Linked DNA regions of Homo sapiens: region 1 is linked to region 2. Evidence: fine-mapped expression QTL. Tissue or cell type: esophagus mucosa. Region 2 holds a variant in brackets; the other region holds the start of a gene. All regions are shown on one strand. Distances are from middle to middle.

Region 1 (8,105 bases), 130 kb before region 2:
GAAAACAATTCCATTACTTACAAAGGGTAATATCTTTAGGTTGAAAAGGCTAAACCCCTCTCCTTTTAGTTCTCAAAGAAAATGTAGAGAAGTTAATAAATATTTGCAAAAAAGCATTTCAAATAAATAGAGTTTGTTTAAATATCTTCTTTCCTAGAGCCAAGAACACAACAGTCAACACTGTATGCTTGCTATGCCCAAGGCATTATGCTAGATCCTGGAATGATTTGAAAAGTCACGCATGACTCCTGCCATCCAGAACCCTACAGTCTAGAAGAGACACAGCTAAACCAGATGAGACTGATTTCAAAGTTAGTAAGAGTGAGAGCCAGGTGCTGAGGATACACTACAGAGGAGCAATTAACACTACCTGAATATCGAAAAGGTTGACCCAGAGGAGATAGAGCTGAGGCTAGAAGAATAATTAGGACTTAGCTGTCAATGTCAGAGAGACATTTCAGGTAAAGGAAGCTGCATGAGCAAAAATGGGCATTGAAGCATATTTCAGGCGACTTCAAATGCTGTTGGGATTTTAGACTTTATTCAGTAGTCAATAGTGTCACTGAAAGCCAGGGGCCCAGCCTAGGTCCTGTTGCTCACTACACAGAAAGCCAATCACTAAGGCAATGAGTATTGTCAGGGAAGAAGGCTTTATTATGGGTGATATCAGCCAGAGACAGGAGACAAGACTCAAATCTGAATCTCCCCTGGCTAAAGTTGGGGTTTATATGGGGGGAGAAAACAGGCAGGGCAAGGAAGAGGAGTTGCTCAATAGGCAGCAGGTGTCTAGCATCTCACTGTAACCTCCTATAGGAAAACAGGAATTAGGGAGGGTTAAGGAAGAGGAATTGGTCAACAGGCAGCAGGTGTAAGTTTCTCAAGCTTCAGTGCTATGGGCATTTGGCTTGTTGGAAAATTGCGCTGGTTTCAACAGGGAGCTGGGAAAAAAAGTTTTGGGGAAGGGCAGTTACTTTGTCAGATGGCTTTCAGATGGAAAAGATCAGAAGCTGGGAGACCAGTAAAGACCATGGCCATGATCTCAGTTAGAAAGTGTTAGAACCTGATCTTAGAACCTGCTTAGAGTAGGGGCAATTCAAGATTTATTTCAGGGCTTAATGGATAGAGGTGTTTGATGAAGGGGAGGGAAAACTCAAATAATTCCAGTTCCAATTGGAATTGAGTAGATAGAATTACAAATGTAAAGTGAACAGGGGATGAAAGTGGGGGAAAATCACAAAACAAACTTGGACCTAGAGAGTTTAAAAGTAAGACATCCATCTAGCCCATTAGAAATAGTCTATCTATCCCATGGAGAAAACTCAAATAAAAACCCACTCAGTTCTTTCTTTCTCAGTAAGGAGATTGCAATGGATTGCAAGGAGCCCTTACTGCAATGCCTAATATGGTGTGGGGAGTTTTTTGGGCTATAACATAAACGGATACCATAATGTTTTTAATGTTGTTTGTTTTTTAGAACTCTTTCACAAATTTGGAACCATGTTGATAAATCCACTCAAAAAAATTAGCTTTCCTATCTTTCATGACTCATTGGCTGGGAACAATTTACATGTCAGTGAAAACATGGGCACACCTAAAAAATGAAGTGAATCATGGTGTTTTCACCCTGGTGTGCATCAAGAAACCATAGGTTTTTCTTCCATATGTTTTACAAGGGCCCCTCAGATCTCAATTTGGCATTCCAAGAGATCTGCAAGAAGTACAGATTACACGTTGTATGGACACATGGAGGGTTCAGTTTCAGTGTATCAACATGACAGATTACATAAAACTGGTAATCTAGGGATACAAATAAAAGCAGCACCTCTAGCTTTATAGAATGCCAGCCCTTACTATTTAATAGATGAGGGGAACTTCGCCAGCTACCTGTGCATATTCAGAGCAACGGTTCGCAAACTGGAGTAGGTACCACTTGCTAAAACACAGATTTCTTCACCCTCCCTCCCCAACTATTTCTGAATCAATACGTCTGGGGTGGGTCCCAAGAATTTGCATTTTTACTACATTCTCTCAGATTATGCCGATGCTATTAGTCTAGGAACTGCACTTTAAAATCTAAGGCAGGCTGGGGCGCGCGGTGGCTCAGCTTGCAATCCCAGCACTTTGGGAGGCCGAGGCGAGCGGATTGCTTAACCTCAGGAGTTCAAGACCAGCCTGGGCAAGTTTAGGAGAGCCCACCCCCACCCTAGTCTCCACAAAAATAATAATAATAATAGTAATAATAATAATAATAATACAAAAATTAGCCGAGCATGGTAGCATGAGCCTGTAGCCCCAGGCACTCCAGAGGCTGAGGTGGGAGGATCCCTTGATCCCCAGAGGAGGAGGTTGCAGTAAGCTGAGATCGCATCACACTCCAGCCTGTGTGCAACAGCCAGACCCTGTCTCAAATAATAATAAATAAATAAATAAAATGAAACCCAATACAAATACCAACCCCTTTTTCGACAGATAACCTACTTGATAAATGTATCAATATCCTGTAGACAATTAAGTGTCGACTATAAGTTGGACATGAGTGCCGTTCATTGTGACAAAGGATGTAAAACCACATATAACTTCCTGCAAAAATCTAACACTTTACAGCGTGCAATCCCAGCACTGCAAAATTAGAAGGATTCAAAAAATGGAGTGTTCAAATTCTCAAAAGCCTGGCAAATATCATGTGAATGGGGCTGGCATCATTAAAGTAGATACATTGAAAACCCAAGGACACTATGTCCATCCTTAGATAATACTCTGTCCAGATGCCTCTCCAATATCCTATTTTATTCTCTTGCTGGATGAGTTGAAAAGAAGAGAGAAGAGGGTAAGCTAGGTGGCGCAGTTGCTTAACACTTTTTTTGGCAAGCTCAGCATTTGCTTTGGAGCACAGGTGAAAAGAATGTCCAGTCCTTAAGCAGAGTCAGTTCTCCACCCGCCTTAGGTATATGGATTGTAACAGCTACGAATGTGGAACTCAGTAGATTGGATGCAGTCTTGTGGCCAATGCCCTAAGACCTCAGGAAAAGAAAGGGATGGAGGGGGAGTGGGTGAGGAGGGGACGGGGAACCAGGAGTTCATTGAACTCCCCCTGGGGCCTTTAGGGTGCAGGCGAGTGTGTGCAACTTCCCTGGTTTTTATCGTGGTGGTGGCGCCCCCGCTGTTTCTAGGTCCATGTAGCTCATACAGGGCTGGCCATGGAACTCACAGCAGGTCTAGGCGGCGAATGCCAGAAATAAGGAGGAAACTGAAAAATGCCAAGTTCTCGGGGTTTGGGAGTACACAACTATTTGCCAGCGGGTGCATTTGTTTTGTGTATCCCCGTACTCCAGTCCCTTGATCATAGGAAGCTCCCTTCTCTCCAGCGCAACATTGGAGTAAGCACCCCGGAGTTTCCCGTGATGGCAGGCGGTTGGCGCGGTCGTTTGTGCTCAGAGGCCAACAAGCGCGTGGATTTTCTGCTTCAGTGCGCCCGGGACTGCCACCCCGGCCCCGGGGATGTCGGACATCGTACTCCAGGGTTTCGAGCCCTAGCCCCGCCGCATCCTCGGGGCGTGCAGGTAAAGGGTTACGCGTGTCGGGAAGGCTCACCCGCAGCCCGGGCCACGTGACGCGCGGGCCCAATGACAGCGCTGGGGCGGCCGCTGCGAGCTCGGCGGGCTCAGGGCAGCGCGGAGCCGCTAGCGTCTCCCGGCGCGGCTGCCCGAGGCCGGCGAAGCCATGGGCGCCGGGACCCCGCCGCCGCCGCCGCCGCCGCCGTCTGGCCCCAGGTAGGGACAATCCCCCGCCCCGCGCGCGCAAAGAGGGCTTTAGTCCTGCGGAACTTGGCTTTGGGGCGAGCTTTCCCCCACTTCTCTCCGAGTCGCCTACTTTTAAGTTTAATTTCTTGATTTGCTTTTGCCCTGAAAAAAAAAATTAGAGACGCAATTCAAAGTTTGATGACTTCGGGAAAAGTCACGTAATTCAACAAAGGGGCTCTAAAAGGGGCAAAACTCGGGTGGGGGGAGGCGGACTTTTACAGATTCCCAAAACCAAAGACCAAGGCGTTTGTAAAGCTTGGCGTTTAATTGGTTGTGTGAAACATTTTTGCTTTTAAATCCCTAACTAATGAACTTTCAACGGTGCATGCGAACTTGAAAAAACTGCAAGAGATTTTACCTTAGATCTGTGCCCTCCTCCCCCATTTTAAGTATGTTTTTTAATAAAAAGGAAATGGAATGTGACCTCTGCTGTTTCTTTGAAATGCCCTTGGGTCCCGGTATTTGCCCCCCAGGGGTGCTGGCGGCCTGGGCAGTGGGTAGGGGTGGGGGAAGAGGTCAGGGTGCCAGGAGGCCTCACGTAGTGAAAAGAGGGTGCCAGGTGCAAACAGTTAAATAGTCACAAACTGTTTGCTAAATATTTAATAATTAGGCAAGCATCTCCCAGCTTGGTTACTTAGGTTGCATTGACCTTGGCAGCCCTGATGAGGCGAGATTTTCACAAAGTACTGGTGAAGAATTTTTCCGGTGATAAAAGGCAAGGATCAATGCTTTTTACCCCAGCATGGCAATTGACCTTAAAAACAAAATTAAAACTCCCTGTGATGACTTAGTACATTTTATGTTACTTTCCATGGCAGCATAGATACCTGCCCCATGATGGATATTTGCCCTGTGAATTTAGAGAAAGTTTGTGCTCCAGAGGTGGTTCAAATCATTGAAGAATAGGGCGTTTATTTTCTTCCTGTCACTATTTATGGGAAAGAATTACGGATGGTCCTTCTTGCCCTGGTTTGTGGATGTCCTTGGTGGTTGCAATCAAGCAAGCTCTTATGAGGAATAATATCTGGAGAAAAGAAGAGAAGCATTTGAGAGTTGAATGAGAAAGAAATGGAAAGCGGTTACTGCTTTTAAACATAATAGAGTCTATATTTGTTGCCTACCCCTCCCCCTTCCCCATTTAATCCTTCAGTTGATACTATTTTAGGAAGGATAAGACAGATGTTAAAGATCATAGACCACCTTACTGGTCCCAGCTGTGAAACACTGTCAGGAGGCAGATAATTGAAACAAGGTACATAATTGAAACAATTTGAAGCTCAAAGGTAAAGTTAAGTTCTGGAGTTATTTGTATTTCCCTAAAGTGTGAAGAGTCAGCTAACAGCAAGCTGCCTGGGTCACTGAGCAGAAATGGAACAGATGCTGAGACAGGAAGGGAAGGTGTGGCTTACTTCTCTTCTTGGCCCATTCTGTGTCTATCCTCTGATCCTGCTCCGTGCATTTATTCAGCAAGTATGATCTTGGTCCTCAATGGCTCCGGAGATTTAGATAAATAATGATACCTAAAGAGAAATAGGGCCAATCTTTCCTGTGTTTCAAAGAGCTTTTTGGATATCTGGGATTGAAGACAAAACCTTGCATACCAACTCAACACGTTCCATTATCCTAAACATGGAATGATTCCCTTGACGTCCCACCCAGACCCTCTCTGAGCCGGAAATACAACCTGGCTAAGCTCCGGCCAGAATCCATTTGCAGCCCAAGGGCAGAGCACAGGTAGGGCCGGCCCCTTTCCTCCTAGAACAGCCCGCTCTTGGTGCCCGGAAGCCCATTCACGGTGCTTCTTGGAATAGACGCCAGTTTCCAAATAATTGAATACCAGCCTTCCAGTAGCTAGGTTTCCTCTCCCTAGACTGTGTTTCACATTCCCCTAGTTACACAATTTTTCTGGTAACCCTGAATCTTGGGATCTTTTACAGTCTTGGTTAAATAGTAACTAGTACCTATGTCCTGCTTTTCTTTCTTGGTCATTAGGCAGATTTTCTTTTTGGTCATTCTTTTTGGTCATTAGATTACATGCTTACAGAGAGACTTTGTAGGTGTGTAGAAAAGAGTTGAGTTAAAGGGGTCATCCTAGGGGAAGCCGACTTGGAGTCTTCACCTATGTGCAGGTCAGATGTAGTCTTTCTCGAGTGCCTGCTCTTAACCATTGAGCCATCCTGTGTCTCCAGTTGTAGCCTTTCTTACTCTGACTGCTATTTAAGAGAATAAACTGAAAATGAAATCGCTCATCTACTTGTACCCTTTTCACCCGAGAATATCATAGTCCCACAGAGGTTAGTTAAAATCTTCAGGACTGTAGATTATCAAATAATCCTTTCCTAAAACATACGTAAAACACCAAGCCAATGAATACGTGTCCTGAAACAGAAAATTAAAACTCTGACTCAGTGTTGTCAGGCATTGTAGAAAAGATGTTCCAGAGCTGCAATGAATATTAACAAATGACAAAAGGAATATTGTATCTCACTCAAACTTTATCAGAAGTGCTGAACTCTGTTCTGTTCAGTGTACAAGTGGTTCTACAAAATTTAATAAAACCCTGACCTGGCCTTGGAGACATCATGTGCGTAGACCCAGAGACACCAGAGAGTCGATGAGTTTCTGGGGACACAGTCCTTGTCTTCAGAGATCCCAATATCTTGGGAGAAACCATTGAAGGATCTTAAGCACAGCAGATCTCTATTTTAGAGAGTTCATGCAGGCTGCAATGAGAATGAAACAGGAAAGATACAACCAAGACCAAAGGCAGCTGCGGCAAAAATTTAAATTAGAGGAGAGAGAGAAGTGAACTGATTCGAAAGATAGTTAAAGAAGCACTGGTATTTAAGATTTTAACTGTAAGAACCCATTAATTGACTTGAATCTCTGACGTCAATTTACATGTCATTTCAAAATACATTTTCTCTAGGTAGATAAATGTAAGCCACATTTCATTGCAATGTTCATGTGGATTCTAGTTCCTCTAGAGCTCCTCATGGTTTTTAATCACAGAAAAAGGTTTCTGATAAATAGCCAATTATATTTCACATTTTCAACAACCTAGTGCTTCTTTCTACAGACTTAAATATCTACATCTGAAGGCAAAGCTGAAGTAAACTGTTGCCCTCATATTATATACACATTCTCTGATTTAGCTTAACTCCTTCTGGGAGTAAAAACACCCTGACATTTGATTGTTTAACACTAGTGGAAATGGACAGTAGAACAGCCTTTCTTTTTTATTGTTTTCAGTTGACCACAACATGGCCTGCTGTATGTCACAGAGAGGACTGTATTATATTTGTAAGAGTATTAGTGACGTGTGAGAGGCTATACATAATGCCTGTGAACAAACAAAAGTCACCTTGGTTATTGACTCATTGCCGCATGCATAGCTTTTTAATACAATGTGTATTTGGATGTATTTTAAATTTATTCACTTGATCACTAGTTGTGGAGTAGATGTCTACACACAGGAGTTTTGAAATTTGATTTTGGTGTTGTTTTCCCTCATTTGATAACTGAGTATCATATATCTTGGTTATTAACGTGCAATAAATACAAAGATTTGATTCTGTATAGCTGTGAAATAGTACTGCTTTTATTTGGTCAGATTGTCAACAACCTTAGTCCTCCAGAATATGTATTGTAACCTAGAAATGCATAAAAGAAGTCCACCTGCACCTTCAAATTGTTGTTAAGAGTCACATACTTAAGATTCCCACTAGAACTTATTTGGCATTATTTCATTTCTGATTCCTAATGAGCTTGGCTACCTGGGTTCCTGGTCCACAGCAAGATCTACTTTATAGTTTCAATGTACAGCTCTTGTGATAAGTATGAAATGTGGTTACAGCCAAATGCTAGGCAGCAAAGACAATACAGTGAAGGTGGTCTGTGATTAAACCCTAAGTCTACAAGAAAAACATTAAATTGTGTTCAAAACTATCTGTTAGAAAGGAAGAAGTACTGCCTTTTGGTAAAAAGGACCCTTGATCCTTTTTAGAGCTGGAAAAGAACCTTAAAAGTTACTTGGTCTAACCACCTTAATTTACAGGTGAGGAAACTGAGTCTCAAAGAGGTTAATTGATTTGTCCAAAGTCATACAGCTGCCCATTGGAAAAACTGCTGGGACTGGAATCTCAGAGTCCCAATTCCTGGTTTAGTCATGTTCCTACTTCTGACTAAAAAGCACAAATGTTAGTACTATGAAAAACTCATTCTATATTAAGTATAATATTGTCCAAAACATAGCCACTGTTTATTGAGAAATTACTTATATATTCAGTATCAGTTATCTATTGC
Region 2 (8,105 bases):
TTGAGTTTCCTCAATACAGCTATTTTAAGTTTTCTGTCAGAAAAGTCATATATCTCTGTTTCTCTAGGATTGGTCCCTGGAGCTTTAGTTAGTTCTTTCGGTGAGGTCATTTTTTTTTTTTTTTTGGATGGTCTTCATGTTTGTGGATGCTCACTGGTGTCTGGGCATTGAACAATTAGGTATTCCTCATAGTCTTTCCAGTTTGGGCTTGTTTGTACCTGTTCTTGGGAAGGCTTTTCAGGTATTCGAAGGGACTTGTGTGTTGTGATCTGAGCCATATCTACATTAGAGGCACCCCAAGCCCAGTAATGCTATGGTTCTTGCAGACTCATAGAGGTATCACCTTGGTGGTCTTGGATAAGATCTGAAAGAGTTCACTGGATTACCGGGCAGACTCTTGTTCCCCAAACAAAAGTTTCTCTCTCTGTACTGAGCCACCTGAAGCTGGGGATAGGGTGACACAAGCACCCTTGTGGCCATGATCACTAGGACTGTGCTGGGTCAGACCTGAAGCCAACACAGCACTGGATCTTACCCAGGGCCCTCTGTAACCACTAGCTAGCTAGCTCCAATGTTTGCTCAAGGCCCTAAGGCTCTACAATCAACAGGTGCAAAGCCAGCCAGGCTTGTGTCCTTCCCTTCAGGGTGACAAGATACCCCAGGCCCTAAGTGGGAGCTAGGGACTGAAGTCAAAATCCTTAGAGATCTACCTGGTGCTCTATTCTACTGGGGCTGAGCTGTCACTCAAACCATAAGACAAGGCCATTTCCATTCTTCCCTCCCCTTTTCCCAGGCAAAGGATCCTCTTCCTATCACCATTACTACCACAGGCCCACAGAGAGTATTGCCAGGCTACTGCCGATGTTCACTTAAGGCCCAAGGGCTCCTCAGACAGTTTATAGTAAGTTCTGCCAGGCCTAGGACACATCCTTCAGGGCAGTGGACTTGCCTGTGGTCAAGTGCAAATCCAGAAATGCCATCCAAGAGCCAAGGCCTTGAATTAGGGACTCCAAGAGCTCGCTTGGTGCTCTACCCCACTGTGGCTGAGCTGGTACCTAAAGTGCAAGACAAAGTCCACTTTACTTTTCCCTCTGCTTTTCTCAAGTAGAAGTAGTCTCTCCCCATAGCCACCACAGCTAGGAATGTGCTGGGTCTCACCTGAAACCAGCACATCTCAGAGTCTCACCCAAGGCCCATAGCGTACTACCTGGGTATTCCTGCTGGTTATTCAGGGCCCAAGGGCTCTCCACTCAGCAGGTGATGGGTCTTGCCAGGACTTGGTCCTTCCTTTCAAGGAAGTGCAGTCCCTTCTGGCCCAGGGTGTGTCTATAAATGTCATCTAGGAGCTGGGGCCTGGAATGGGGGCCTCATGACTCTGCCTGGTGCCCTATGCTAATGTGGCTGAGCTGGTATCCTATGGTGTAAGACAAAGTCCTCTTTACTCTTCCCTGTCTTTTCCTCAAGCACAAGGAAGGGGTCACTTTCATTGCTGTGAGCTGTGCTGCCTGGGTTTTGGGACACGTGACACAGGTTCTCCCTTAGCCACTCTGGTGTCTCAGTAGATCAGGTGCCCCCCCAGGTCCACTGGCTCTGGCCCCAGCACAGTACTGATATCTTGCCTAGGAACCACAGTTCTTGTGGCCTAGGCTACCCTTCAAGTGTATTAGGATTGCAGAGCACTTTAGTCCATGGTGGTGCGGCTTGCCAAAACTCAAGTTCCAACAACTGGAATATATAATTTCCCTCTGGCTAGATCTGGTCCAAATGCTCCCTCTGTGTGTGGGTAGGCTGGGGGGTCGTGGCTTAGCTGATTTCAGCCTGGTTTTGCTTTCTGCTCTGATAGGGCAGCACTGAGTTCAAACGCAAAGTCCCCAAATCACTGTACTCTCCCTCCCCCAAACACACAGATGCTCTCTCCACGACATGCAGCCACTGCCAAGGAATGGGCAGCGGCAGTTCAAGATTGTCTTTCCTACTACCCTCTTTAGTGCCTCTTTCAGCAATATGAAGTTAAAACCAGGTACACTGATTGTGTACCTGATTTTTGGTTCTTATAAAGGTGCTTGTTGGTGTAGATGATAGTTGTTAAATTTGGTGTTCCTGTGGGGCAATGAAGTGAACATCAGTGGAGGCTTCTATCTGGCCATCTTGTTCTGCCCTTCCCCAAGAGCATTCTCTTATATAACCCCAGTACAATGTTCAAAAGCAGGTAATTCACATCAATTTAATACGATTACCTAATCTACAGACCTTATTCAGATTTTACCAATTATGTCAATAACGACCTTTTAGCAAGAAGGACATGCAGTGCATCGGCTGTCATGTCTCTTAAATCTCCTTGAATTTGGAAGCATTCTTCTGTCTTTCTTTGCTTTTTCATAACATTACATTATTTTAAGAGTACAGGCCAGTTGCTTTGCAGACTATCCCTCGTTGTTTCAACTCAGAGTATGCTCTTTTGTCAGGAAATCACAGAAGTGAGGCTAAGTTCTCAGTGCATCCTATCAGGAGCCACATGCCATTGATTAGTCTCATTATGGCACTATTACCTTTGATTACTTGGTTAAGGCGCTGTATGCCGGGTTTCTCCAACGTAAGGATAATATTTTGTCCTTAATCATATGGGGGGGAGCTACTTTAAGACTAAATATCCTGTCCTCCTCAAAATTTCACCCACTAGTCCTACCATCCATTGATACTTCTTACTGACATCAATTATTATTATGATGGCTATCAAATGGTTTTTCTATTATTATGATGGCTATCAAATGATTTTTCTAGTTCCAGTATTTCTCGTATGTTTGTTAGCTGGTTTCCTACTTGTAAGGTAGAGTGTTCCCTTTCCCTTTATGTATCTTAGTGTGGACTCATAAGTCCTTGTTTTATTCAATTGGCTACAAATGCTGTAGATTAGTAATTATTTTAATATTCCAGTTGTTCCACATTTGGCCAGTAAAACTTCTACAAGTGGATTCCTGTGTCCTTTTAAAATGTCCCTGTCATTCTTCAAAGCTATCACTATTTAAAGGCAGCTTCCAGATGGGTTGAGTCTTTTCCTATATGCCCTTGACTTCCTAATGAATACTCAGTTAATTTCTCTGCCTGGCTGGAGAACTCCTGGGCTTCCCTGGACTTCGCCCTTCCCCTACCTCCATTGCTACCCTCCCAGCAAGGAGGCTTCACCAATGACTGACATGGCATTAGCATGGCCTTCTTTTTTTATTGTTTGTTTGTTTTTGTTTTTGTTTTTTTTTTTTTGAGACGGAATCTCGCTCTGTCGCCCAGGCTGGAGTGCAGTGGTGCGATCTCGGCTCACTGCAAGCTCCGCCTCCCAGGTTCACGCCATTCTCCTGCCTCAGCCTCCCGAGTAGCTGGGACTACAGGCGCCCACCACCACGCCCAGCTAATTTTTTTTTATTTTTAGTGGAGACGGGGTTTCACCGTATTAGCCAGGATGGTCTCGATCTCCTGACCTCGTGATAGCCTGGCCTTGTTTAAACACAAAACAGAGTCAGCCCCCAACACAGGGCTGCAGAAGCAGGCGGCAGCAGCATTGGGTGGACACAGCCATCCTAATGGTGTTTGTTTTTCCCCTGTGTAAACTAAGAAGTGGTTGTGAAGGATTTTCCCTTTGTTGCCTGTTGCTTTTTTATGCTCCAAAGAGGAAGCAAATTTTGATTTTGCTCAGTAATAAAGGGTACCCAACAACTGAATTCTTACCTTTAAGCTAGCTGTTGCCAAAAGGGAGGCAAGGAAGACAGCTGATAGACTGCTCATTTTGAACCCAATCTTACGTCAAAAGAGCATATTTTTTTCATTGCTGTGTGTCACATGCTAGACCCGGAGCATTT[C/A]CTTGTTGCCCCTGGGCTTAGGAGAAGTCCTTGCTAAATGCAAGATGTAGAAGTGGGAGTGACATATGAAAAAAGAAATGAATTAAATTTGATATGACACATCATATAAGGAAGAATAATTGTAGACACAGGCATGCAGGGGTTGGGTGTGAGTACATTAGTCCCCACCCTTTTCGTCAGCAGTCACACAACCTTGGACATTAGAGCCTGTCCGTCTGATCTAGAGAAGGAATGTTGCTGGGGAAGGAAAACTCAGGGCGAGGTGAGAGAGGACAGAACCTCTAACCAGGAAGAGGCTGTCCCCGCCAAGCTCCGGAGAGGCGCGGAAGCATGACCCTCAGGTATGGGACCAGGTCTATAGGAAACCCATGTGGTGTGCCCTAATGGGAGGCAAGCCGGGGAGGACCCAAACTGGAAACCTGATTCTGAAAGAGGAAAACCACCACAACATCCTTTGTAATTGTGCAGCTTGGAAGAACAGTATAGATCCTGTGGTTTTCCTGGGGAAGGAGGGGAGCCTAAAAGCCGCAAATGATGTATATTTCCTTCAGAAGCAGGGAAGGGGCAGTTTTCGAGTACGGCTGTTAAATCTCAGCACTCACTTCATTCGGTGCAGGCTGCTCCTGTGGTCTTGGCTATAGCAGCAGAAGGCGGGGATGGAGGGTGCCCCAGGGTCAATCTTGGTCAGCCTCCGAGGAGCTGGGAGTGCAAGGTGTCACTCTGGATGTGCCTGCCTGCTTTTCCTCGCCTTCTTGCCCTCCTTCGCCTTTCCTCCCTCTTTTCTTTCCTCCTTTCTTTCGCCTTCCCCTGTACACCTCTTGAATTCACCATCATAAAGTTGACCTGAGATGTTTCAATGAGTAATGTTTTATGATTGCTTCAGTTACATTATTACAATCCAGTCTGCCTTCCTTGTTTCTCAAACAGTTCTAAGCTCTTTTCTCCTTTTCTTTGACTTGTTTTTTTTTTTTTTTTTACTACCTATCCTCCTGACTAGTTGTTGTTGTTTGTTGGTTGGTTTGCTTTTAAAGAGTCCAGGATAAACAAAGTATTGCAGGCATGAAAAGGGTCAGGATTTCAGAGCGAATTGTGGAGGGGGAGGGTCAGGAGGGGAGGGGAGAGGAGGGGAGAGGAGAGGGGAGGGTGGAGGAGAGGTATTGAGGGAGGGGAGGGGAGAGGAGAGGTATTGAGGGAGGGGAGGGGAGAGGAGAGGTATTGAGGGAGGGGAGGGGAGAGGAGAGGTGTTGAGGGAGAGGAGGGGAGATCAGAGGTGTTGAGGGAGAGGAGGGGAGAGGAGAGGTGTTGAGGGAGGGGAGGGGAGAGGAGAGGTGTTGAGGGAGGGGAGGGGAGAGGAGAGGTGTTGAGGGAGGGGAGGGTAGAGGAGAGGTATTGAGGGAGGGGAGGGGAGAGGAGAGGTGTTGAGGGAGGGGAGGGTAGAGGAGAGGTATTGAGGGAGGGGAGGGGAGAGGAGAAATGTTGAGGGAGGGGAGGGGAGAGGAGAGGTGTTGAGGAAGGAGAGGGGAGAGGAGAGGTGTTGAGGGAGGGGAGGGGAGAGGAGAGGTGTTGAGGAAGGAGAGGGGTGAGGAGAGGTGTTGAGGGAGGGGAGGAGGTGCACGTGCTTCTTCTCGCCTGTCCTATTTATCCAGCTCATCTATGAATTATCAGCAGAAAAGGAAAGTAAAGGAGGAGTAGAGGCTGGGAATAAAATCCTGGGCTTTAGAAATGGGGTAGTTTAAGAGTATTCTGAAAGGTACAATGTTACACATGTGTACACAGTTCCATAGCAAAAGCGATTTTTCTGTCTACGGGACTGTTGTTGTACTTGGGGTTTTCTATCTTTCAATTGGTGTCACAGTTGATAGAAATATACCATGTAGCCCTTATTCCAGAAACAAGTCCTACTTGACATTGTTAATACTCTTGTTTGTATGCATAGGTTCTGGCAACTAGATTATATCTTTCTTGGATACTAGACCTCCATCTTTTTCTTTTTGGGGGGTGTGTTTTAATATGCTGTATCCAAATGGGGTGGTTAAGACACCCCTGGTCTATGTTTATTATGAATGTTTGCTCATATGACCCCCAGCAACACTATATAGTAGGAATATTATTATCCCCATCTACAGGCCAAGTGACTGAGGCCCAAAGTCCCACAGTAGCAGGGTTTTCTGTCTCCTGAGCCCACCCTCATAACACCTGGGCGACACGGCTGGCACAAACTGGAAATGTCTTGATTGGTTGCAGACACACAACAGGTTCACTGATAGTGCTCTCGTTTTTAATCCATAGCCATTAAATCATTCATTCATTCCACATTTATTGACTGCCTGCTCTGTACCAGGTGCTGTCCTAAGTGCTGAGAATTAGACTTGAAGAAGGGTGGAGCACGGTAAGGAAAGAGGGTGGCAAGAGATGCACGGCTGGTCCGAGGGACTCTTCTACATTCCATGAGTCCTCCCAGGAAGAGTTGGAAGGACAAGGGGTTTGGTCCTCAAGCATGAAGTGATTTGGGGATGTTACTAGTTTTCTGTGCTGCTGCAGCAAATTACTACGAACTTAGAGGTTTAAAAAAATGGAAGCAGCCGGGCATGGTGGCTCACGCCTGTAATCCCAGCACTTTCAGAGGCCAAGGTGGATGGATCACCTGAGGTCAGGAGTTCAAGACCAGCCTGGCCAGCATGGTGAAACCTCATCTCTACTAAAAATATAAAAGTTAGCTGGGCGTGTTGGCAGGCACCTGTAATCCCAGCTACTGGGGAGGCTGAGGCAGGAGAATCACTTGAACCAGGGAGGCAGAGGTTGCAGCGAGCCGAGATTGTGCCATTGCACTCCAGCCTGGGCAACAGAGTGAGGCTCTGTCTCAAAAAAACAAACAAAACAAAACAAAACAATGGAAGTTTATTCTCTCCCAGTTCTAGAGACCAGAAGTCTGAAATTGGTATCAGTGGGCTTGATCCAGGGGTGGGTATCAGGGATCAAGGTGTCACCGGGGCCACACTCTTTCCAGAGGCTCCAGGGGTGAATCTGTTCCTTCCCTCTTCCAGCTTGGGGGGCTGCCAGTACTCTTGGTTTGTGACCTCCTTGCTCCAATCTCTGCCTTTTTGGTCACATTGCCTCTTCCTCTTCTGTCTATAATCAAATGTCCCTCCACCTCCTTCTCATAAGCATTTATTTAATTGTATTTAGAGTCCACCCAGATAAACTAGGCAAATTGTACCATCTGAAAATCCTACACTTAATCACATCTGCAAATACCTTTAATTTGGGGGCTGGGGTGGCATATAAGGTATTATTTATAGGTTCCAGGGATTAGGATGTGGATATCTTTGGGGGCCATTTTTCAGCCTACCATAGGGAGTTATTTGTGGATTTTATTTTTTTAATGTAAATCTAGTCCCTTTTAACTAAGCAACCAATCTGTACTTCTTAAAAAGCACCAGTCATATTCACTGTGGACAAAAGCTTATGAAGCAGCATCCCTGGAAATTCACCTATGATTGAAAGAAGGAAGGAGGGACAACATGGGAGACAGAGACACAGCCAGCAATGAATGATGTCTCTTTCTGGTGCATGTGCTTCATGGAGACAGGGAGACTGGGGATGCAGATTCTGTTTTGGCTTGTCTTTTTAAAGGCTGTAGGCCCGTCACAGTGGCTCATGCCTGTAATCCCAGACCTTTGAGAGGCCAAGGCAGGCAGATCACTTGAGGTCAGGAGTTTGAGACCAGCATGGCCAACGTGGCAAAACCCTGTCTCTACTAAAAATACAAAGATTAGCCAGGCATGGTGGCACCCGCCTGTAAACCCAGCTACTTGGGAGGCTGAGGCAGGAGAATCGCTTGAACCTGGGAGGCAGAGGTTGCAGTGAGCCGAGATTGCGCCACTGCACTCCAGCCTGGGCGACAGAGTGAGACTGTGTCTCAAAAAAAAATAATAAATAAAAATAAAGGCTGTAGATATTAGAAATGAATAATATCTAAGAGATGCTTCCATACTCATTTTTAGGATGTTCTGAGGAAGGAAGAGGCCAACATGGTCAGTTTTATATGAAGAGAAGATTTTGTTCCAAAGGAAATGATGGGGAAAAGCCCAGCTTGGGGAGGGGTCAGGGAACAGTGGGCAAGTGGGAAATGAGTCCACCTTCTGCCAGGAAGCCCAAGGGGGCATGTCTTTGAGCTGCAAAAGAACAGGTCCACAAATCATAGCTGAGATTGGCCCAGCGGTAGGAAAAGCAACACAGAATCAATTTAGTGTG

Direction of the effects. Alleles are on the strand shown, and positions count from the first base shown. SD is a standard deviation of normalised expression in the study named.
With allele C in place of A in region 2, the expression in esophagus mucosa of the gene that starts at base 3,655 in region 1 is higher (small effect, 0.31 SD a copy in GTEx).

The links. PIP is the estimated chance that this variant, and not a neighbour inherited with it, causes the effect.
Region 1: PGCKA1 starts here. The variant in region 2 is fine-mapped to the expression of PGCKA1 in esophagus mucosa (GTEx, PIP above 0.99).

The regions. Positions count from the first base shown.
Region 1 is chr4:37,450,271-37,458,375 of GRCh38, forward strand. It overlaps PGCKA1 (PDCD10 and GCKIII kinases associated 1), which reads left to right and starts at 3,655. Exons shown (of 4, transcript NM_001104629.2): 1 at 3,655-3,770. LOC124900691 (a long non-coding RNA gene) reads right to left here. Exons shown (of 3, transcript XR_007058098.1): 1 at 6,366-8,105; 2 at 5,210-5,320; 3 at 4,047-4,824.
Region 2 is chr4:37,580,197-37,588,301 of GRCh38, forward strand. The region is part of intron 2 of PGCKA1 (PDCD10 and GCKIII kinases associated 1); the gene reads left to right. It also overlaps a transcript of RELL1 not described here. Among named protein-coding and RNA genes, the nearest start is that of RELL1, 100 kb to the right of the region's middle. The variant C/A (reference allele first, on the strand shown) is at 3,852.